Homo sapiens: one gene and its partners. The protein of the gene in region 2 purifies or fractionates together with the protein of the main gene of each other region. This does not show direct contact. Each region holds a gene or a part of one and is shown on either strand. Other genes may lie near its edges.

Region 1 (3,500 bases), on a different chromosome or scaffold from region 2:
ACATTGTGTGTGAGAGTGTGTGTCAGATGCCATGTGTGAGACACCAAGACACGGGTATGTGATACTCTGTGTATATGTGAGTCTGTGTGAGAGACACTGATACTCCAAGACATTGTGTGTGTGTGACACTGTGAGACACCAAGACAGTATATGTGCGAGACAGCCTATGTATGTGACAGTGTGTGTGTGAGACACCATGAGAGACTGTGTATTTACTGTGAGAGACTGTGTGAGAGACACGTGTGAGACACTGTGTATATGACACTATGTATACGTGAGACTGTGAGACACTATGTGTATGTGACACTGTATATGTGTGAGACCGTATGAGACAGTGTATATGACACTGTATATGTGTGAGACTGTGTGTGTGAAACACTATATGACACTGTATATGTGTGACACTGTATATGACACTATATGTGGAGACTATGTGTGAGACACTATGTATATGTGACACTATGTATGTGTGTGACACTGTGAGAGACACTGTGAGACACCAAGACAGTATATGTATGAGACACCCTGTGTGTGTGACACAGCGTGTGACTGTGTGAGACGTGTGTGAGGCACTGAGACTGACACTGTGTGTGAGGCTGTGTGAGAGTCAGTGTGTGTGATAACTGTGTGTGTATCACCGTGTGTGTGTGTGAGAGAGGGAAGGAGAGAGAGGGAGGCAGGTCAGAGGGAGTCAGGTGTCCTTGGCGAGAGTGGCAGCAGCCTGCCTGGAGGGACCCTGGGATGGCCATTTCAGCACCTAAGGGGTAGCCTGCCCGGGTGAGTCTCCAGTCCACTGTGACTCAGTCATTGTGCCTGTGATCCCCACCCTCCATCTGCTTGCTTCCCCCCCATTTGTCTTCCCCAGCCCCCTCCGCCCCTCCCCAGAAGGTGATGTGTGTGAGCATGGGCTCCACCACGGTCCGGGTAAGTTGGGTCCCGCCGCCTGCCGACAGCCGCAACGGCGTTATCACCCAGTACTCCGTGGCCTACGAGGCGGTGGACGGCGAGGACCGCGGGCGGCATGTGGTGGATGGCATCAGCCGTGAGCACTCCAGCTGGGACCTGGTGGGCCTGGAGAAGTGGACGGAGTACCGGGTGTGGGTGCGGGCACACACAGACGTGGGCCCCGGCCCCGAGAGCAGCCCGGTGCTGGTGCGCACCGATGAGGACGGTAGGCAGTGCCACCGGGGCGGGAGGGGAGGCGTTCTGCCTCAGACACCACCCACCAAGCTCCCCAGGGCCTTCCTTTCCTGAACACAGGCCCAGGTCAACTCATCTTTCTGGTTCAGGTGTAATGGCCTAAAGTGGGGGGATGTCACTTACGGGATAACTGAGGCCCAAATCCCAGCCTTTGGGGCTGTCTCCAAAGCAGCTGAAACCTTCACAGGCTAAGATGGGAGAAGCAGCCCTGTCTAAGATTTGAAAGGTCAAGATTGGGCAGATTGGTGTAAAAGATACTCAAAGTAGAATCAGCAAGACTCCACGTTGGCTGGACATTGGCATGATTGGGGCCTAGGAGGAGTCAGGACAGGTTGTGCTGACTAGGGGTGGTCAAAGACCTGGTGCCCCACCTCCACCTGTTCCCCCATGTCGACCCTCCCCACCAAGTGAGAGGCCTGGGCCAGAGGGGTGGGCAGGGCCAGTCCTGGGCTCTTACCCGTGGCGGGCAGAGGGAGCCTTCCGTGTGCCTCACCAGGGACAGATGATCTAAGGAAACTGTATCAGGGCCTTTCCTGGGGGAGTGGGGTGCTGAGGCAGGACCCTCAAGTTTGCTGTGCCCACCTGAGCTAGGGTTGATACCTCCAGGCCTGACTTCCTTCTCTACCTGACCCCCCAGTGCCCAGCGGGCCTCCGCGGAAGGTGGAGGTGGAGCCACTGAACTCCACTGCTGTGCATGTCTACTGGAAGCTGCCTGTCCCCAGCAAGCAGCATGGCCAGATCCGCGGCTACCAGGTCACCTACGTGCGGCTGGAGAATGGCGAGCCCCGTGGACTCCCCATCATCCAAGACGTCATGCTAGCCGAGGCCCAGGTGCAGCATTGGGTGGTGGTGGGGTGGCAGGGTGAGCACAGACCAGCATGCACAAGCTCCCTTTTGGGGCCCAGATATGTCCCTCTTCCCCTGCCTGCCCTCAGCAGTGCTGTGACTGCCTTTCCTTGGTTGTGAGACCCGAGATGCTTTGCAGCATCAGGGGTTAGGCTGGGGTTTTTTGGGTGTGGGTTTTTTGTTTGTTTGTTTGTTTTGAGATAGAGCTTCACTCTTGTCGCCTAGGCTGGAGTGCCTCCTGGGTTCAAGCAATTCTCCTTCCTCAGCCTCCCGAGTAGCTGGGATTACAGGCGTCTGCCACTGCGCCTAGCCAATTTTCGTATTTTTAGTAGAGACAGGGTTTCACCATATTGGCCAGGCTGGTCTCGAACTCCTGACCTCAGGTGATCCGCCTGCCTCAGTCTCCCAGAGTGCTGAGAATACAGGTGTTAGCCACTGTGCCCCACCAGGTCGGGGTTTTGAGATGTGCCTTTCCCCTAGACAGTGCTGGGCTGGCATCCACTCTTCCCACAGAAAGGGTAGAGAGAGTGCTCCAGGGCTGTCTTACCCCACTGGCGGCCATGGGTCCGTGGTTGCTGCAAAGCTCTGTGAGTAGCCAAGTAGAGTGTTGCCCTGCTCCTGGCCCTGCAGGGAACGATTCAGCCCCTGATGTTCACCCTCAAGAGCTAGGCCTGCTGGCCAGCCTCACACCTCCCTCTGTGCACATCTGTCTTCCTGGGAGGATGGTCCTGCCCTTGAGCTTGGGGTGAGGTCCCTGGGGTATTCTGAACACTGGTTGCTATTCAGATGAAGAACTTGGAATGCTGGGGGGTTATGAGAGTGGTATGGAATTATTCAGCAAGTAGGTGGCTGCTGCGCTTGGATGAGAAGCCATGTCTGTGGACCCCTAGGAAAGGGCCACAGTTGCTGTCATGAGCCCCCTCCCAAAAGACCCTGCTGGAGAGTCACAACACCTGGTGTGGTGCTCTCAAGGTCTCCCTATCCAGGAGCAGGGCCTCCCCATTGAGCCTCTCACCTCTGCCTGGGTGGAGAGCAGGGGTGCGTGTACCACTCAATGCTGTACACACTGTGCAGAGGGGTGGGGTCACCCACACAGACAGGAGCCTTATTCCTCCAGCTGGGCTCAGCCATCTGAAGCAAAATTCTTTCTGCCCAGAGGGTGCTCTCTTCCCCCTCTCAGCCTGCCCAGTGCTAAGGCATCCGGGGTGGAGGAGGCAGGCATGTGCACCCACCTGCATTCCTGGGGCAGGTTGAGGGCTCCTTGTGGAGCCTCAGTGAACACACCTACCCAGAAACATCCCAGGAATGGGTTCCCCTAGCCCCTCCTCTCTGAGGGGGCCAGTGGCCACAGCTGTGGCCAGTGGGGTTCCAGAGAAGCCACTTCAAGTGCCCCCTTCTGGTCCCAAGAGGTTCGGAAGGGAGCTGGGCCAGAGGCTCAGGGACGCTGCCCATTT
Region 2 (3,558 bases):
AAACTATTCTCCTGCCTCAGCCCCCTGAGTAGCTGGGATTACAGGTGCCCGCCATCACACCCAGCTAATTTTTGTATTTTTAGCAGAGACGGGGTTTCACCATGTTGGTCAGGCTAGTCTTGAACTCCTGACCTTGTGATCCGCCCGCCTCGGCCTCCCAAAGTGCTGGGATTACAGGAGTAAGCCACCGCATCCGGCCTCTACTTACAATCTTTACTGAGCCTTGTTGGAGCCCACTTACTACTTACCTGCGTCCTGGTCCTGTGCCTTCGTCTGACCATCTAGGAATGTCATAGATGATCTGGCCCCAGCCCTTAGCCCTGACCTCTCCTTTTAGCCATGCCCCTTAGTGGGCAAATACAAGCCTTGACCCTGCCCCTCCAGGTGTGATGTTGCAAACTCTGATCTGGTGCAAGAACTGCAAAAAGGAGGTTCACGCTTGTCGAAAGTCCTACGATTGCGGGGGTGAGAGAACTGGACCCAGCAGGAGGAATTGGTGCAGGTGGGGTGGGGCGAGAGGAGAGGCAGTCTAGAGAGAGCCTAGATGGGGGTGTGGGGGCAGTAGACAAGAAAAGGTAGGGTTTAGGCCAGGTGCAGTGGTTCACACCTATAGTCTCGCACTTCGAGAGGCTGAGACGGGAGGATTGGGAAGCCAGGAGTTTGAGACCAGCCTGGGCAACATAGCGAGACTCTATCTCTACAAAAAAATTTAAAAATTAGTCAGGTGTGGTGTTGCGTTCCTGTAGTCCCAGCTACTTGGAAGGCTGAGGCAGGAGGATTGCTTGGACCCAGGAGTTGGAGACTGCAGTAAGCTATGATCATACCACTGCACTCCAGCCCAGGCAAAAGAGTGAGACCTTGTCTAAAAAGAAAAAAAAGAGGCCGGGCGCGCTGGCTCACGCCTGTAGTCCCAGCACTTTGGGAGGCCGAGGCAGGTGGATCACAAGGTCAGGAGTTCAAGACCAGCCTGGCCAAGATGGTGAAACCATCGTTTTTGTACTAAAAATACAAAAAAATTAGCCAGACATGGTGGTGGGCACCTGTAATCCCAGCTACTCAGGAGGCTGAAGCAGAGAATTGCTTGAACTCAGGAGGCGAAGGTTGTAGTGAGATAAGATCGCGCCACTGCACTCCAGCCTGGGTGACAGAGTGAGACTTCATCTAAAAAAAAAAAAAAAAAAAAAGAGAGAGAGAAAGAAAAGAGAAAAGACGAGGTTACAACAAATGTAAAGGATTAGGGGAGGGTAAAGAACCGTGAAGGAGGCCCGGCGCAGTGCCTCATGCCTGTAATCGCAGCACTTTGGGATGCTGAGGCAGGCAGATCACCTGAGGTCAGGAGTTCCAGACCAGCCTGTCCAATATGGTGAAACCCCATCTCTACTAAAAATACAAAAATTAGCCAGGCGTGGTGGCAAGCGCCTGTAGTCCCAGATACTCAGGAGGCTGAGGCAAGAGAATCGCTTGAACCCAGGAAGCGGAGGTTGCAGTGAGCCGAGATCGCGCCAATGCATTCCAGCCTGGGCGACAGAGCGAGTCTCCATCTCAAAAACAAAAACAAAAACAGAATCATGAGTGTCCCATGGTCATCCCCCACCCCCAGAGCGGAATGTGGAAGTTCCTCAAATGGAAGACATGATCCTGGACTGTGAGTTAAACTGGCATCAGGCTTCGGAAGGCCTCACTGATTACAGCTTTTACAGGGTGAGGGCCTCAACTTCTGTAACCCTTGAACTCCCTAGACTACAATACTTGTGTTCTGGATCTATGGGCCTGCACCCACGATTCTCATGACCCAGGAGGGTGGTCTATTAGGTGTGGTCTCTACAGACCTCTGGGGACCCCGTGCCCTGACCAGTGACACCCTGGACACTCACCTCCCACACTGAGGCCCTGTGATCTTCTCACCCCTGTACTCCCCCAACCCCTGAATTCCTCAGGCCTCAGTGACCCCTTGAGCTTGGGTCTAGGTTTGGGGGAACAATACGGAGACCTTGGTGTCCAAGGGGAAAGAGGCCACCCTGACCAAGCCCATGGTGGGTCCAGAGGATGCAGGCAGCTACCGCTGCGAGCTGGGCTCTGTGAATTCCAGCCCAGCCACGATCATCAATTTTCACGTCACAGGTCAGTGCTGTGGGGCTGAGAGAAGTGTAGGATTCAGGGCCCAGGAAAGCTGGGGTCCGCGGCGGGGGCGTGGCCTTGGCGATGGGGGCGTGACTTCCTGTTGGGTGTGGTTTCGGGGCACGGGGTGTGGCTTCCTGCCGGGGGCGTGGCCTCTGGCCCCGAGGACAGGGGTTCCCTTGGGTGTGTTCAGGCTTGACACTGTTGAAGGCGTGATTATCTCTGGGATGGCCGGCTACTGGGACGGGCTTGTCTTTGCCAGGGCAGGAACTCCACGCCCTGCCAGGACTGCTCTTTACGCTTTCTCTAACAGTGTTGCCCAAAATGATCAAGGAGGAAAAACCTTCTCCAAATATCGTAACCCCGGGGGAGGCGACCACGGAGTCGTCCATAAGCCTCCAGCCTCTGCAGCCCGAGAAAATGCTGGCAAGCCGCCTTCTGGGGCTGCTGATCTGCGGCTCCCTAGCACTGATAACCGGCCTTACCTTTGCGTAAGCAACCCATTGAAGAAGACAGGCTTGGCTTGGAGTAAGGGGCGGGGCTTCCAGGAACCCAACACAGAAGCTGGTCTGGGGGCTACTGAGGCCTGAGAGCAGGACTTTCCTGGGGATGGAGTGCGGGGGGCTTGAATAGGAGGACTTCGAAGGGCGAGGCTTAGGTAATTGCTAGAATAAGGTCACAAAGGGGGAGGTTGGGAGGGGTGTCCCCCACACAATTAGTACCCAAACCGGTTCCATGATCTGCACCCCACTCCCACCCCTAGGATATTTCGTCGAAGGAAGGTGATCGATTTCATCAAATCCTCACTGTTTGGCCTTGGCAGTGGAGCGGCCGAGCAAACCCAGGTCCCAAAAGAAAAGGCCACAGATTCGAGGCAACAATAAAGATTTATCTTGTTGTCTAAGCATCTGACTCACTCCCCGGGACGGGACTGATTCTAGCCTTTGGTTCCCCGAGAGGAGAGGTCTGGGGATGGGCTCCGGCCTGAGGGAGGAAGGGCAGAAAACCGGGACCCTTGGGTCCTGGAGGGGACCAACTGACTGCGATGTAATTCCAGAATCAAGGAATGGGGCAGGGCCAACCCTACCCAGATCTCCTCCCCCAGGCCTGGTCTCCTCACAGGACGCCCCCTCCCCGCTCTTCCTGCCGGGTTTCCTCTTGCCTTTTCCTGTCCCCCACCCAGTGCTGGGAGCCGTGGCAGAGGCAAGAGCAGTGGAACTGACCCAGGCCAGTGGAGCCAGGGCCTCCGGGTGTGCCGGACCCGAAGCAGGGTAAGAGCCAGGGACCCAGCAGCCCAAACCCCTCCTCCCTGGGCCCCAAGACTCAGTCCCCCAGCCATCTTCCATCCCAGGACCCAGGAATCCAGGGTACCATCCCTCTCCTCCCCCTGGACTCGCAAGTCTGAGCCCCAGCCCCCTCCTCCCTCTGACTCGGAGTCCA
Region 3 (3,500 bases), on a different chromosome or scaffold from region 2:
AATATTAGCAACTCTACAGAAATAAAAAGGATTATAAAAGAAAACTATGGGCCGGGTGCAGTGGCTCATGCCTGTAATCCCAACACTTTGAGAGGCCGAGGCGGGTGGATCACTAGAGGTCGGGAGTTCGAGACCAGCCTGACCAACATGGAGAAACCCCGTCTCTACTAAAAATACAAAATTAGCCGCGCGTGGTGGCACATGCCTGTAGCCCCAGCTACTCAGGAGGCTGAGGCAGGAGAATTGCTTGAACCCGGAAGGCGGAGGTTGTGGTGAGCCGAGATTGTGCCATTGCACTCCAGCCTGGGCAACAAGAGTAAAACTTCGTCTCAAAAAATAAAATAAAATAAAAGAAGACTATGAACAACTGTATGCCAACAAATTAGACAACTTAGATGAACAAGATAAATCCCTACAGAAATGCAAACTAGCAAAACTGACTCAAAAAGAAACCAAAAATCTGAATAAGTTTATAACAAGAGATTGAATTAGTAATTTTAAAACTGCCCACCAAAAAAAATGCAGGCCCAGATGGGTTTTTTTTCCAGACTGAGTCTCGCTCTGTCGCCCAGGCTGGAGTATAGTGGCACAATCTCAGCTCACTGCAACCTCCACCTCCCAGGTTCAAGTGATTCTTGTGCCTCAGCCTCCTGAGTAGCTGGGATTACAGGTGCCCACCACCACACCTGGCTAATTTATGTACTTTTAGTAAAATTGGGGTTTTGCCATGTTGGCCAGGCTGGTCTTGAACTCCTAACCTCATGTGATCTGCCCACCTCAGCCTCCCAAAGTGCTGGGATTACAGGCACGAGCCACCATGCCTGGACTTCACTGGTGAATGCTATTAAACATTTAAAGAATTAATACCAATGTTTCACAAACTTTTCCAATAAATAGATGAAGAAGGAAAACTTTCCAATTCATTTTATGAACCCACTATTATCCTGATGACAAATGCGTCACAAGAAAAGAAAACCACACACTAATATCTCTTATGATATAGATGCAAAAATCCTCCACGATATACTGGCAAACTAAATTCAGCAACATATAAAAAGGGTATTATACACTATGACCAACTGAGACTTATCCTACAAATATAAGAATGGTATAACTTCAGATAGTCAATTAACGTATTACACCATATCATAGGATAAAACAAAATACATGATCATCTCAACAGCTGCAGCAAAAACATCTGACAAAACTCCAACATCCCTTCATGATTAAAAGAAAAAAACCAAAACTCTCAACATACTAGGAATAAAAGGAAACTTCCTCAAAAAGCATCTCTAAAAAACCCACAACTAACATCATAGTTAATGGTGAAAGACTGGATGTTTCCCCTCTAAGATGAGGAACAAGATGAGGATGTCCTCTTTCACCATATCTAGTCAACATTGTACTAGAGATTCTAGTCATGGCAACTGGGCAAGAAAAATAAATAAAAAGCATCCAGAATGGAAAGGAAGATGACATGATCTTGTGTATAAAATCCTAAGGAATCCACCAAAAAACTATTAGAACTATTAAATGAGTTCAGCAAGGTTTCAGGACACAAGATCAATAACTAATCAATTATATTTCTACATACTTGTAATGAGCAACTCAAAAATGAAATTAAGACAACAATTCCATCTATAATAGCATCAAAAAATAAAACATTTAGGAATAAATATGACACAATAAATATAAAACTTACATACTCTTAAACCATAAAACATTGTTTAAAAAAAATTAAAGAAGAACTGGCCTGGTGTGGTGGCTCACACCTGTAATCCCAGCACTTGGGGAGGCTGAGGTGGGCGGATCACCTGAGGTCGGGAGTTCGAGACCAGCCTGACCAACATGGAGAAACCCCACCTCTACTAAAAATACAAAATTAGCCGGGCGTGGTGGCACATGTCTGTAATCCCAGCTACTTGGGAGGCTGAGGCAGGAGAATCGCTTGAACCTGGGAGACGGAGGTTGCAGTGAGCCAAGATTGTGCCATTGAACTCCAGCCTGGGCAACAATAGTAAAAACTCCATCTCAAAAAACAAACAAACAAAAAAAACCTCAAAAAATTAAAGAAGACCTAAATAAATTGAAAAACATCCTTATGCTCATGGTTTAAAAGACAATATTGTTAAAATGACAAAACTCTCCAAACTGAGGTATAGATTCAATTCAACTCCTATCAAAATCTCAGCTGGCTTTTTGCTGACATTGACAAGCTGATCTTAGAATTCATGTGGAAATGCAAGAAACCTAGAATAGCCACCTTGAAGAGAGAGGTCTGAGGACTCACATTTCACGCTTGCCAATTTTAAAACGTACTACACAAAGCTACAGCAATCAAGACAACGTGGTACTGGCATAAGGACAGACATACAGGTCAATGGAATACAATTTAGAGTCCAGAAATAAACCCACACATTTATGGTCAATTGATTTTCAACAAGGGTGCCAAAATAATTCATTGGGAAAGAACTGTCCTTTCAACAAGTGCCGCTTGAACAACTGCATATCTACATGCAAAAGAACAAAATTTTGGCTGAGCTCATTGGCTCATCCCTATAATCCCAGCACTTTGGGAGGCCAAGGCGGGAGGATCACCTGAGGTAGGGAGTTCGAGATCAGCCTGATCAACATGGAGAAACTCCATCTCTACTAAAAATACAAAATTAGCCAGGCATGGTGGCGCATGCCTGTAATCCCAGCTACTCGGGAGGCTGAGGCAGGAAAATTGCTTGAACCTGGGAGGCGGAGGTTGTGGTAAGCCGAGATCACACCATTGCACTCCAGCCTAGGCAACAAGAGCGAAACTCCATCTCAAAAAAAAAAAGACAACCCATGGAATGGGAGAAAATATTTGCAAATCACATACTGATAAGGGCCTACTATCCAGAATATGCAAAGAACCTTTACAACTCAACAAGTCAAATAACTCAATTTTTAAATGGGCAAAGGATTTGAGATGACATTTCTCCAAGGAAGATACACAAATTGCCAATAAGCACATGAAAAGATGCTCAACATCATTAATCATAAGAGAAATGCGAATCAAAACCACAATGAGATGCCACTTCACACCCACTAGGATGCGTACAAACAAAACAACAGATAATACCAAGTGTTGACAAGGATGTGAAGAAACTGGAATCTCATACACTGCTGGTGGAAATGTAAAATAGTGCAGCCACTTCGAAAAATTGCTGGCAGTTCCGCAAAAAGTTAAAACATAGAGTAACTACATGACCCAGCAATTCCTCTCCAAGGTATATACCCAAGATAAATGAAAACATATACCCATACAAAAACTTATACATGGGGCTGGGTGCAGTGGCTCATGCCTGTAATCCCAGAACTTTGGGAGGCCAAGGTGGGCTGATCACTTGAGGTCAGGAGTTCAAGACCAGCCTGGCCAACATGGTGAAACCCCATCTCTACTAAAAATACAAAAATTAGCCAGGCGTGGTGGTGCACACCTGTAATCCCAGCTACTAGGGAGGCTGAGA
Region 4 (2,514 bases), on a different chromosome or scaffold from region 2:
TTTAATACTCTCACAGCTTTGTGTTTATTCTCTTTGCTCATGGAATAGCAGAACAAGATAAACATGGGTTAAGACATTTAGGAGAACCTGCTGTATCTAACCCAGTTGGATTTTCTTTCATGCTTAACACAGTAGTGAAAATAGAAGGTAGGCCGGGCACAGTGGCTCATGCCTGTAATCCCAGCACTTTGGGAGGCTGAGGCAGGTAGATCACCTGAAGTTAGGAGTTCGAGACCAGCCTGGCCAACATGGCGAAACCCTGTCTCTACCACAAATACAGAAAATTAGCTGGGCGTGGTGGCAGGCGCCTGTAATGCCTGCTACTTGGGAGCCTGAGGCAGAAGAATTGCTTGAAGCTGGGAAGCAGAGGTTGCAGTGAGCCGAGATCGCACCACTGCACTCCAGCCTGGGCAGCAGAGCAAGTAGTAATAACCACCGTGTAGACAAGTGGGAGGGAAGAATAGAATGGCACTGTCCAGCTCTGGGCTAGCCAGATCAACTCCCCCACCCGTCTTCTTCCTCTGTCCCAGAATGGAAAATGATGTATGGTCAGTCACGCTGAAGTATAGCAGCGACTGTGTTAAGAGAGAGCAGTGACTCTCTCTTCTAGAGAAGAGGTTTTCAATAACAGGGCTTGGAAATGAACTAGAATAGGAAATAGATCTTTTCAGATGCTGCTTTCCCATGTAATACAAGCGTTTCTACAGGGTACCAGAGGTGTGAAATATGTGACACTTAAGAACAGTGATTTTTATTGGGAATTTTCTTAGGGTTATTACACTTAAAGCAACAACCAACTAGTAACAGCTCCAGGAAAGGGGAATGAATCAACTCTTGGTTCTTTCCTGAAGACGGCAGTGTTGTGGATAAGTGAGTTTTTAATGCCCTGGCAGTGGCTACATTTGACACTTTAGAAAAAATAAACATATTTAATAATTTTTGTTTCTCCTTAGGAATAAGACTGTAGAACTGTTTTGTACTGTGAATTACGGATGCTCTTTGAAGGAAAGAAATATCGATTCTAATGTTCTTCAGAAGTTCTGGCAGGGATAAGCAGGACATCGACTGGAACGTATGCTAAATGAAAGCAGACAAATTTCTATTTTCTTACCTGAGCAAATATTTTATTGAAACTGCTTATGTATGTCAAAGGAGCCCACAACTTCAGCTACACAACTTTTTGTATTGAAAGAACTCATACTTTTTGTAGCTTTTATTTCACATTTAATTTAAAGTGACTTTTAGCACTAAAATGCCTAGAAGATTTTACTCCAGACCTATAAGGAAATGTTTAGTTTTTATGAAAAATGACAAGTCGATGGTTAAACTTCTCATGTCTTTGGTGCTTTGGCCCTAATAGCACTGGACAACACCACGACCACATGGAAACATATTTTTGGAAGCAAAACTTTAATTTTATATAACGTATGCTATGGAGAGCTAAGACAATTTAAGGACTACTTGTTTTCTATTTTTTTTCTTAATAAAATGGAATCCACTGTGTTGAAGACTCTTGATATCATGTGCTTGTCTAACCATTTTTTGTTTTATAAATTAGAATAAAATATAGTTGTGATAATGGTCATCGAATGGATTTGTTTGGAAAGCTACATCTTATTTGTGAAATGTTTTTTAAATCAGAGTAACTATCAACTGATTCAGCTTTTTGTTGTTTTGTTCTTGGCTATAATACTTGTGACTCATGAAGAATTATGTTGACAAACAGGATAAATTCCACATGCATTTTATTTCCCAGTGAGTTGTATAAACTTTATTTTTGTTGAAGGTTGTATGTTAAATCAATGTTACATTCTTATATCACTTCTTGAGAAGGAAGTTCCGATTTGAAATTGTATCATTTCCTTCAAAATGAAGGGCAGTGCTTAGTTAAATAAAAGATTGATGATATCTTTTAAGCCATTTCCTCTTCACTATGTCTTATTAAAATAAAACCTGTCAAGTTCTTTTCAAAAGATGCTATGAGCGTTTCCAATAAACCATCTATTAGAGTTCACTGGATTTTTTTCCACTTGAATACCTTTTTTCTGACATTTTTGGTCCAAATTCAAGCTACTCAGTTTCCTATAATTTCTCTGAGAATATTAGCGTGCATCACCTTTGTATTGCACAGTAAACATTTTGTTGAATTCATTTAGTGACTGAAAACCCTGCATCTACTTTGTGAAAATCAGTTATTGCTGAACTATCAGTGTTCATGAAAAATGACTTATGAACATAAATTTTCAATACATAGTGATTTTTCAGAATCCATGCAAAAATTGTTGGAAACCACACTCATTATGGAGTCTACACTGGGCAGTCTGTTTAGTAGCCCACCGGGAATCTGTGTTGCATCTTAAGTGGCTTCAGAGTTCCAGATGAAGGGAACGTATTTGCCACATAATTACAGAAAATGGGTGAACATAGTGGCACGGCACTGTTGGCATAAGGGATGCAGGTGCCAGTGGTTGGTAAGAGAACAGATGTGGCATCAGACTGGTGTGTGGGATGCCA
Region 5 (3,500 bases), on a different chromosome or scaffold from region 2:
ATACTAAGATGCTGATCGTGGTGTTATCTTTAATTCTTTGTAAAAAGTGGAAACAACCTGCATTTTACAAAATAAGTAACCAGTAAATATTATCCACCAGCCCAATTGCATTGTGCAGCCATTAAAGAACGATAATTGGGAAGACACATGTTCATAAAGCAAATTATAAACTATTCAATACTCTGTGATGACAACTGTGTAAAAATAGATTTGGGCAAGTCCTGGCAAATGTAAAAGGAAACATTTTGGAACGTGGGAATATGTATAGTTTAAAACTTCTTACTATTGCATGATCTTTTAAAATTACTTTTTGTATATATTTGACAATAAAAAAATTTGTCTTCATTGTAGGTGTTGTAGAATATTTGAGCACAGGTGGAGTAGAAACAAATCACAAAGACTTTAAGGAGTTGAGGTATAATGAAAGTCTCACAAACTTCAGCTGTCATGGGAAGAATGGAACCACCAATGGAAGGATCACTCATGGTTTCAAGTTACAGAGTGCCTATGAGAGTGGCCTGATGCCTTACACGAATTACACATTTGATTTCAAGGTGTGTCTTGAGACTGATAAGCTTTTCAAACCTGTCTTTTACTGGCAGGTGTTCTGATACATCATTATGTCTTTAAAACTGTGGCTGTGTGTTCAGGCTGGAATGAAGCAGTCTTGAATTCATTGACAGCAATGTTCTTTGTTTTTTGTTTGAGACAAGGTCTCACTCTGTTACCCAGGCTGGAGTGCAGTGGCACAGTGATGGCTCACTGCAGCTTCAACCATGCCGGCTCAAACGATCCTCTCACCTCGGCCTCCCTAGTAGCTGGGACTACAGGCGCCTACTACCACGCCTGGCTAATTCTTGTATTTTTTGTAGAGATGGGGTCTCGCTATGCCCAGGCTGATCTTGAACTCCTGGCCTCAAATGATTCTTCCACCTCAGCCTCCCAGTGTGCTGGGATTACAGGCGTGAACCACTGTGCTCAGCCAGTAATATTCTTTTATTACTCTTTTTTAGAAGTCCATGTGATCAGTGTCACATCCTTACTTTGTAGATATTTATTCTAATAATTTTCAGGATAAGAAGTCACATGAAATAATCTGTAAAATTCCTAAGTTGACTTTTTCACCTTTTGGGGACAATTATGTTTCTTATATTCTCATTACTAATAGCTAGATATGCAGCACCATAATTATCTAGTTTGAGTGGCATTTGTGGTAAGATGTTCCTTCTCTTACATTTTAATTTAACTGAAAGTAAACTCTTGCATGCCAAAATGTGATTTATATTAGCTATTTTTAAGTGTTTCTAAGATACATCTTTTTTCTCCCCCTAGAGACAGTCTTGCTCTGTTGCCCAGGCTGGAGTGCAGTGGCGTGATCTCGGCTCACTGCAACCTCCACCTCCCAGGTTCAAGTGATTCTCATACCTCAGCCTCCCAAGTAGCTGGGATTACAGGCATGAGCCACCTCACCTGGCTAATTTTTGTATCTTTGGTAGAGACGGAGTTTCACCATGTTGGCCAGGCTGGTCTTGAATACCTGGCCTCAAGTGATCCACCCACCTTGGCCTCCCAAAGTGCTGGGATTACAGGCATGAGCCACCGCACCTGGTCAGACTTACACCATTTTTAACGTTAGTGATTGTTTAGGGCTGTCACTTTCTTGTGTTCAACTGTCCTTTTTCTAAAAAGAGATATGGTCTCACTCATTTTGCCCAGGCTGAAGTACAGTGATGTGATGATAACACACTGCAGCCTCAAACTCTCGGGCTCAGGCAACCCTCCTGCCTCAGCCTCCCCGCTAACTTGGACTACAGGTGTCCGCCGCCATACCCAGATCTTTTTTTTTTGGTAATTTTTTGTAAAGACAAGGTTTTGCTATATTGCCCAGCCCAATCTTGAACCCCTGGCCTCAAGCAATCCTCCTGCCTTAGCCTCCCAAAGTGCTGGGATTATAGACGGGAGCTACCACATCTGGCTCAGCTGCCCTTTTAAACTACTTTTTGCATTTCTGCTTTCTTAAAAATTTCTTAACTCCCAGCTTTCTATTTCTAAGCTGCTGGAAAAGTAATCATTTAGATTAGACTGTCAGAGTGTAAATAAGAGTTTAGATAGTATCTCAGGAGCCTTTGCACCTTAGAGCATAGAAAGTAAACCCCTGTTTATCCTCAGGTGCCCCTTCCTTTCAGGTTCTTCAGGAGACATTGAAGAGAAAGCATGGGTAGCAGCCACAGAGTGGGAATGCTTAGCGTTTTCTTTCTCTTTCTGTTGCTGATGCAGTGGCAGGAAGAAGACACTTGAATGTGCTTCAGTACATTTGGCCAAGAGCATGTAGAGGGGAGGACCAGAACCATCAGATGGGAACAGTTTAGTAGATGCCATGGCGGGGTGCTGCTGAGAGAAAAGGGGGTCAGGTAGAGACAGTCCTGCCCTCATGGAGCTGAGGTGTGATGAGAGAGACAAGTCTCAACCACACAAATGAGTAGATAATTACACCTTGAGATGGCCATTAGCAAGGGAAGTGAATCTGTGGTGAGAGGTAGGGTAGTAAGTAGGTAGGAGCAGGATTCAGGAAGGTCTTTGGAAAGCAGTTGAACCTGACATTGAAAGATTAAGAAGGAATTGACCTCATAACAAGTAGAAGAAAGTGTTCCAGGCAGAATGGTGGAGGGGGGCAGTGTGTGTGTGTGTGTGTGTGTGTGTGTGTGTGTGTGTGTGTGTGTGTGTCCGTCCGTCCGTCCGTCCTGGGGCAGGAAAGAACTTGGTACCTATAGGTCCCCTCACATCCTCACCCCTTTCTCATTCCAAAGGCTAGTGTGGAAGCAGGGAAAGTGGCACAAATTAGGCTAGGAAAGAGAAGCAGAGGCTGCATCCTGAAAGGCCTTTTAGGTCTTGTTAAAGATCCAGATAAGAAGAATGCTTCATTCTGCTAGATTTGACATTTTGCACGGGGACCATTTGGTGTATGTAGTACAGACCTCATCCTACAAGCTAGTAAGTTTCACTTGTTCTGTTCTGTTCACCAAACATGACATAAAGGCATGTCTTGAAAGCACTGAGGATTTTAGTGTTGTCTTATACGGTGCTTATCTTTTTTTCTGTTGTTTTTCAGGGTATAATAGACTACATTTTCTATTCTAAACCTCAGCTGAACACCTTAGGCATCCTGGGCCCTCTGGACCACCACTGGCTGGTTGAGAATAACATCAGTGGCTGCCCGCACCCCCTCATCCCCTCTGACCACTTCTCACTTTTTGCACAACTGGAGCTCTTACTGCCTTTCCTGCCCCAAGTCAACGGCATCCACCTTCCTGGCAGGAGGTAGTCAAGCACCTTCAGAGGACAGCCTTGATTCACTTGTAAACTTGTGAAAATCTGAACATAGGGGAGTGAGGTATGGCCACTGAGGATTTTTGCTTGCTTAAGAATGATTTGGACTTTCAATCTGATTATTTGATAAGGATATAGTATGAAAGCCAGGTGCTAGCAACAGACAAATTCTG
Region 6 (3,500 bases), on a different chromosome or scaffold from region 2:
TATCTTCTTTTCCTAGGCAATGTTGTAGGCATTTGGAATTCAGCAGCAAGTAAGAAGTACAAGTTTGCTACTCTTGAAAAGCTGCCATTCTAGGGGGTGATCTTAGAAAATGCAATACACGTTATAATTGGTATCGCATCTCTAACCAAGCGTATATATCAAATATATGCTATATAAAACTAATGACATGAGAACAAAGGTACACATTGTCAACATTTACAATCGTGAAATAATGTTATATTGTGTAACCTTAATATAATAAGCACACATGTATTTATCCGTACATTACAGACATAAAACCTGTACTGTACAATAAATGTGACTTAGTGAAACTAATAATGTCAGCTAAATATCAGTGAGCACAGCTTTAATTAGCAATATTTGTATTTGCTTTGAAAGTTCAGAAAGACATGTAGGGGAAATCTGGAGCACACACAGCCTTGAAAAATGCCAGGTCAGAATATTTAAACAAATTTCATTTTATTATTATTTTCAGTAAATTCCCTTGACAAAATACTATCATTCTGTAGTTCTTTGAGTAGTGTGTAAATATTGAATCACCTTTTTTATAATTACCATTTCAGCTTTAAATATTTGAAGGCTTGCTGAAGACCTTTAAGAATTCAAAAGCAGGGGCCACTTTAAACTAATATTTTGTTCACCTTCTCATCTTTGTTTTCCTGACTCTTGCCACTTCCCTGTCTTTTCCACCTCAAAAATAAACAAATAAAACATAAGAGTGAATCTTAATGGCAAATTAAAATAAATCAAAACAAAAGAACAGGTTGAAGAGAATGAGGTGAATGGGTGCTGACTCATTTATTCAGTTAACTGTTTAACGATTCTCATTAAAAACCTACCGAGTGCCAGGCAGCATTCTAGGCATTCACAATTTTACAGTAAGTCAGAAGTACAAGTTTGCTGCTCTTGAAAAGCTGCCATTCTAGGGGGTGTTATACTTCTTGCCTTTATGTTGGCAAGGAAACAGGGACACTAATGGGCTGATTATATGAATGTTACCCTTTGAGATTTCTCTAAAGAGTCAACTATTAGAATGCCCCTTCCTACCCTAATAGCACTGCGTTTCAGAATCATTGTTTAGAATAAGGCACTTGAATATGAGGTCAGCAAAGCAGACAGTTTATATTTTTAATTAGTAGTATTTTGATTTGTATTCTTCTGCTAAAAAGAAAGAATTAGACCTCTAAAAAGATGGATTTTATTGCAAATATTTGTCATGTAGCTACATTGGATATTTCTGATGTGGAATATAGAATGCATATTAATATGACCATAACATACCTTAAAAAGTGATTGGTGAATGTGCCTTAATTTACTTCCTTCAGCAATTTTTAAATATTAAGAATAAAGCATTGATTTGAAATTTCTATTCTTTTGCACCTTAAAATTTTTGGTTTTTCATTTACAAGAAAATTTTTAGTAATGGTATTGTGTCTTACCAGAATATAGATGTTATTGTTTCATCGCAATTTAATTTCATTTCAATGTATTCCACATTTTGTTCTTTTCAATGTTTATCGGTATTTCAGTTATACCATTTATTTATTGGGGCAAGGGGCTAATTGGCCAAGCTTTTGGTATAATAATAGTAATAACTGCAGCTAATACTAAGGTTTTTTTGTGGGTTCCAGTTACATTCTAAGAATCTTAGTGGATTGGCTCATTAGTCTTCACAGCAAACCCATGAAATACAGTTACATACAGCTGTATAATATGACTTAAATAATAATATTTTTCCCATTTCCACATGAGGAAACTAAAGCAAAGAGAGGTTAAGAAATGCGTGCAGGATCACTTAGCTAATAAGTAGAGGATTTGGATACAAGCCTAAAAATATGCTATCAAGCCCTTCTAGGAAAGCAGGATTTGTGTCACCTATGAATGTTTTCCTGTCCTTCTTGGCCATTCAGAAAACTACTCTTTGCTATAATTTCATTTAATTAAATCTTCAGTAGATACATAATCCTGTCATTTTCATAGTAGAGTTTATAGATTTTTGAAATATTATAGGGATGATGGGTAGTCATTGTCTTTTATCTTCCCCCATCCAAGCCTTACCCAAACCTCCAGGAACTCCTGTAGTGACCGAGAGCACAGCTACAAGCATCACACTGACGTGGGACTCTGGGAACCCTGAGCCTGTTTCTTATTACATAATTCAGCATAAACCTAAAAACTCTGAGGAACTTTACAAAGAAATTGATGGGGTGGCGACCACACGCTACAGTGTCGCTGGACTAAGTCCCTACTCGGATTATGAATTCAGGGTTGTTGCTGTCAATAACATTGGGCGGGGGCCTCCCAGCGAACCTGTGCTAACACAAACCTCAGAGCAAGCACCATCCAGTGCCCCGAGGGATGTCCAGGCACGAATGTTGAGTTCGACCACCATTTTGGTACAGTGGAAGGAACCTGAAGAGCCAAATGGACAGATCCAAGGATATAGAGTTTATTATACAATGGATCCCACTCAACATGTCAACAACTGGATGAAACACAATGTAGCTGACAGCCAAATCACTACTATTGGCAACTTAGTGCCCCAGAAAACATATTCTGTCAAAGTCCTGGCTTTTACCTCAATTGGAGATGGTCCCCTTTCAAGTGACATACAAGTCATCACTCAGACAGGAGGTAAGTTTGGTTGAGGAGGGAAATAGGGCAGGAGGGAAGGGCTGGTGCAAAGAGGTGAGAAGGACAAAAACAAAGAAGGAACAAAGATGGTATGAATTTTAATTTTTGAGATTTAGGGCTTCAAAGCAACAGATGATAGATATCTGAAAAGGAACAAGCATGGACATCTGAAAAACTAATCATTTTGAGCAGAACAATGCATTAACACCCCTTCTTTTTAATTTGTATGGGAATGACTTGAAGACTTCTCTATGTGAGATAGAACAATGTCTCCCCCATGCCCAGTTTTGAGAATAGAAAAACGACACTTCTTTGTAATAGCTAGTATGGTAGAGTGGTCTCAAAAGAGTATTTAATTTGTGTAAGATTGGATGGTTCAAGACAAAGCTAAAAAATAAAACTGTTACAGGGCCTTGGGTATTTAAATGGCTTATATTTGCCAGAAGCTACTGGCTTGAAAATAAGTATTCTCTGAGTGGCTTTAATTTCTGTTTTTCTCTGTATGGCCTCAGTGGATAAAGAGAGACAGTTACCGAGATCTCAGATAGAACATTGGGCCTGATTGATTAACTTTGCTAAGAGCTACAGCAGACATTAGACTATTTTATGAAGGAAAACTTGGCCCTCCCAGTGGTTTTATTTTTCTAAGAGGTTATCAAACCTCTTTGGTCTTTGAGTCAAGGTGATCAGTTTGGCTTTGGGCTAATATAAAATAACAGGCCTCTTCTAAAGTTTATTCTTGAGCCACGCACAGTGGCTCACGCCTGTAATCCCAACACTTTTGGGAGGTAGGTGGATCACTTGAGGGTCAGGACTTTGAGACCAGCCTGGCCAATGGCAAAACC
Region 7 (3,500 bases), on a different chromosome or scaffold from region 2:
AACATAGTGAGACACTGTCTGTAATTTTTAAAGAAATAGAAAATTTTAAAAATTAAAAAAAAATTTTTTTAAGTAGACAAGGGCGGTCCAATTTTACCAAACAGTTTAAGGGAAGAGGAGGTAGGAAAACCTAATTTCAGAGGTGACTTACAATCCCATTAGAGGGAAATTCAAGTGTTTGAGGTCTGGAGGGTAAAGAAGACGTGGTTAGAAAGGATACAGTTGTCAAGCTGAGGAGAGAACCTAAGCAGTCGGAGGCCATTGGAGATACTGGAACAACAAAAGCGTGATTTATATTTGAGTTTTTAGAACCAATGTGGAAGAGACATGGAGCAGGTGTACCAGCTGTGCCTTTGTAAGATCTGAAATGAGGGATGATAAGAACCTGAACTAGAGCAGAGTGTGATACTGGAGGGGAAGGAGAGTTCATGTAACACTGATTCCCCACATAGGGACGAAAACCATATTATTTTCACTGTGTTGTACTTTACTAAAGGATAACCATTTACAGTAGCAGCCATTTGGATATTTATATATTCTTAGGATCATGCTTTTTCACATAGACGTCATGAATCTCCCAGCCCAGAGGTTCACAAAGGCACAGAATGTTTCACTGGGGATGTCAGTTTTAATCAGAAGCAAATAATTTAAAACAATACTTTTGTAATAAACATGACAATATTTACCTAAAATTTTAGGCCCTAAAATGAGGCTTCAAAGAAGTTTTGTGTTTGGGCCATATCCTCAGTCCCTTCTGGGCAAAAGATTACCCTCTTCCACTGTTAGTAATACAGAAAATAGGAAAGCCAAAGACAAGTGTTACAGAGATGAAGATGTAACCTTTTGGGTGTGACAGACATATATATACAAACACACACATAGACACACAGATAATGTCAAAGTTTGTCCCAAGTGCATCTGAGGAGAGGTATCTGATCTTGCTCTTGGGCAGCCAGGGTACCTACTAGAAAAAGCTTTTGAGATGAGACAGTACCAGAGTAAGTCGACCAGATATGGAAGGAGATATTCTTAGGCATGATGGATTGAATTAAGGAGGCCTGAAATTTTGGGGCATGTTGGCAGCTGTGCCAGTTCCGTATGGTTGGAATGCAGAGTTTGGAGTGAGACTGGATCATAGAAGATCTTAAAAAAATTTAATTGCTGCTGTCCACAGAGGATGTGTGAAATAGTTTGTAGTAATTATTTCTCGTTAGAAAATGGTGGAGTGGAGCTCGATATGCTTTTCTTTTCTTTTTAATGTTTTTTAAAAATAGAGACTAGATCTCTATGTTTGCCTAGGCTTGGCTTAAATTCCCAGGCTCAAGTGGTCCTTTCACCTCAGCCACCCAAGTAACTGACATTACAGGTCCATACCACTACACCCAGCTCAGTATGCTTTTTCATGTTAAGGTTTTCCCATTCTTGGCAAAACCAGCTATTTGGTTTACCTGTACTTTATATTAGAGGTTGAATATTTTGATGTTCATAGGTGAGACAGATAATACAGATGAGTGAGGAGGCCTAGTGTGTCACACAGGAGATTGTTGACATCTAGAGGTTACTGACATCTAGAGTTAACCTTTTCAACTAAAACCATTCACCATGTTCTTTTTTTTTGTTTGTTTTTTTAAACATAGTTTGCCAAACAAAACATCTGTGGCCTGATTCCAAGGGCTACAAGTTTGCAATCTCTGATTTAAATTTCTTGGAGATTAGCACCATCTTATTTCCATTACATGTTAATACATTCTTCTTGTCATACACAAGCAATATTTAATTATAACACTGGAAATCTAAGATAGGCAAAGAAAAGGAATGAGGACCAAATTAGCCATAAACCTGGAAGGGTAGAAGTGTAGAATCTTATTTCTCATTTTTCTTTTCCATGTGCTGTGATAATCTACTTTCTATTTTTCAAGTCTTCATTTAGCAAATATGGAGTTCAAAGTGATGTGCTATATATATTTTTTTTAAAAATTACTAATTTGTAAGCATCACTGATTTTAAAGAAAATGCTATTTGTGCTATACAAAAATATATTTTTTAATTAAGAGTTAATTATCTTGGGATCCCTAAAGGGTTTTTGTTTCACCTCTGTCCAACAAGAGTAAAATTGTTAAAAGATGTGTTGCCAGTTCAAGCTTAAGACATGCATTTGAAGCTGTCTGCAAAACCTCATATATGGCAGTAGGGGGCACTCGTGCTAACTTAGCCAAAACTCTGAAATAAACCCAGAGCTTTTAATGTGCCAGAAAAATTAAAGTTTTTATTTTTTATTTTTTATTTTTTATTTTTTTATTTTGAGATGGAGTCTCGCTCTGTCACCCAGGCTAGAGTGCAGTGGCACGATCTTGCCTCATTGCAACCTCCACCTCCCGGGTTCAAGTGATTTTCCCACCTCACTCAGCCTCCCAAGTAGCTGGGACTACAGGCGCGCACCACTGCGCCTGGCTAATTTTTGTATTTGTAGTAGAGACAGGGTTTCACCAGTTAGCCAGGCTGGTCTCAAACTTCTGACCTCAGGTGATCCACCTGCCCCAGCCTCCCAAAGTGCTGGGATTGCAGGCGTGAGCCACCACGCCTGGCCTTAAGCTTTGATTTATTATCTTTAATATTTTTACAACTAGTTTATTAGAAGTAACTAATTGTACTTCAAACCTGTGGGTTTCTGCTTTGTTTTCATATAAAGATCAGTTTTTCTTAATAGTACTTGTCTTTCAGACAATTGGTGTGACCTTTGCAGCCATGGTTGGAGCTGGAATGCTGGTACGATCAATACCATATGACCAGAGCCCAGGCCCAAAGCATCTTGCTTGGTTGCTACATTCTGGTATGTTCTGTTTTAAATTGTTACGAGACAACCTTGACTACCACCTTTTTTGGGTGGCTCTTCACAGTTGTAAATGACCTACATGGAATTTAAGCCTCATGTTTAGAAAACACCATTTTCTTCAGTCATTACTGGCTGCATTATTGCCAGACCTTTGCTTTGAAAAGTTGATTTTGCTAAGACCATGGACATCTTCAATACGAAACTTGTATCTTCTGACAGTCTAGTATATGCAGAGATTTACTTTTGTGTATTTTGTTCGATACCAGGAGGGTTTTATATCTAGTACGCATCATTTGAGAGTTGTTTTTGTCTGGTATGTTTAGAAAAATTAAAAACTGAGGATAGAGAAAGTTGTGCTAAAAATGTTGCTGCGAAATAACAAAAAACTGAGAGGAGTCCTAATAGAAGTGTTCTGTGTAGAAATTTCACCCACTGTTTTGCCTAGAGCAAAAAGTATTTTTAAATTATTCATCATCATGAGATAGTATACCTTATTAACCATATAACTTGATCTAGAAATGTTATTCTTTAAGCTAGTATTGAAAATTCAGTATAAAGATAGCTTTGTGCCTAGTCTATGAGGTAAACGACATTTAAGAAAAAGGTAACTTATTCTTCTTAGCACTGAAATAATGCATTATCTAAGTTTTTTTTCAATTAAGGAGTT

What was found.
Region 1: the proteins of IZUMO1 (region 2) and PTPRF purify together in Homo sapiens (affinity purification with mass spectrometry; one large-scale study listed by BioGRID and IntAct). This does not show direct contact.
Region 3: the proteins of IZUMO1 (region 2) and ANKRD13A purify together in Homo sapiens (affinity purification with mass spectrometry; 2 studies listed by BioGRID and IntAct, with this or other methods). This does not show direct contact.
Region 4: the proteins of IZUMO1 (region 2) and LRATD2 purify together in Homo sapiens (affinity purification with mass spectrometry; 2 studies listed by BioGRID and IntAct, with this or other methods). This does not show direct contact.
Region 5: the proteins of IZUMO1 (region 2) and CNOT6 purify together in Homo sapiens (affinity purification with mass spectrometry; 2 studies listed by BioGRID and IntAct, with this or other methods). This does not show direct contact.
Region 6: the proteins of IZUMO1 (region 2) and PTPRD purify together in Homo sapiens (affinity purification with mass spectrometry; 2 studies listed by BioGRID and IntAct, with this or other methods). This does not show direct contact.
Region 7: the proteins of IZUMO1 (region 2) and GHITM purify together in Homo sapiens (co-immunoprecipitation; 3 studies listed by BioGRID and IntAct, with this or other methods). This does not show direct contact.

Annotation. Positions count from the first base shown.
Region 1 is NC_000001.11:43,596,883-43,600,382, forward strand, and holds part of PTPRF (receptor-type tyrosine-protein phosphatase F isoform 1 precursor), read left to right. Parts: intron 1-865; coding exon 866-1,171; intron 1,172-1,837; coding exon 1,838-2,031; intron 2,032-3,500. UniProt on the Homo sapiens protein: Possible cell adhesion receptor. It possesses an intrinsic protein tyrosine phosphatase activity (PTPase) and dephosphorylates EPHA2 regulating its activity.
Region 2 is NC_000019.10:48,740,352-48,743,909, reverse strand, and holds the end of IZUMO1 (izumo sperm-egg fusion protein 1 isoform 1 precursor), read left to right. Parts: intron 1-384; coding exon 385-465; exon of another isoform or gene 466-502; intron 503-1,600; coding exon 1,601-1,701; intron 1,702-1,937; exon of another isoform or gene 1,938-1,967; coding exon 1,968-2,121; intron 2,122-2,431; coding exon 2,432-2,609; intron 2,610-2,881; coding exon 2,882-3,002; 3' UTR 3,003-3,058; downstream 3,059-3,558. UniProt on the Homo sapiens protein: Essential sperm cell-surface protein required for fertilization by acting as a ligand for IZUMO1R/JUNO receptor on egg.
Region 3 is NC_000012.12:110,005,930-110,009,429, reverse strand, and holds part of ANKRD13A (ankyrin repeat domain-containing protein 13A), read right to left. Parts: intron 1-3,500. UniProt on the Homo sapiens protein: Ubiquitin-binding protein that specifically recognizes and binds 'Lys-63'-linked ubiquitin. Does not bind 'Lys-48'-linked ubiquitin.
Region 4 is NC_000008.11:126,551,943-126,554,456, reverse strand, and holds the end of LRATD2 (protein LRATD2), read left to right. Parts: 3' UTR 1-2,014; downstream 2,015-2,514.
Region 5 is NC_000005.10:180,570,879-180,574,378, forward strand, and holds part of CNOT6 (CCR4-NOT transcription complex subunit 6), read left to right. Parts: intron 1-351; coding exon 352-554; intron 555-3,109; coding exon 3,110-3,322; 3' UTR 3,323-3,500. UniProt on the Homo sapiens protein: Poly(A) nuclease with 3'-5' RNase activity.
Region 6 is NC_000009.12:8,517,003-8,520,502, reverse strand, and holds part of PTPRD (receptor-type tyrosine-protein phosphatase delta isoform 1 precursor), read left to right. Parts: intron 1-2,073; coding exon 2,074-2,655; intron 2,656-3,500.
Region 7 is NC_000010.11:84,146,009-84,149,508, forward strand, and holds part of GHITM (growth hormone-inducible transmembrane protein), read left to right. Parts: intron 1-2,721; coding exon 2,722-2,830; intron 2,831-3,500. UniProt on the Homo sapiens protein: Plays an important role in maintenance of mitochondrial morphology and in mediating either calcium or potassium/proton antiport. Mediates proton-dependent calcium efflux from mitochondrion.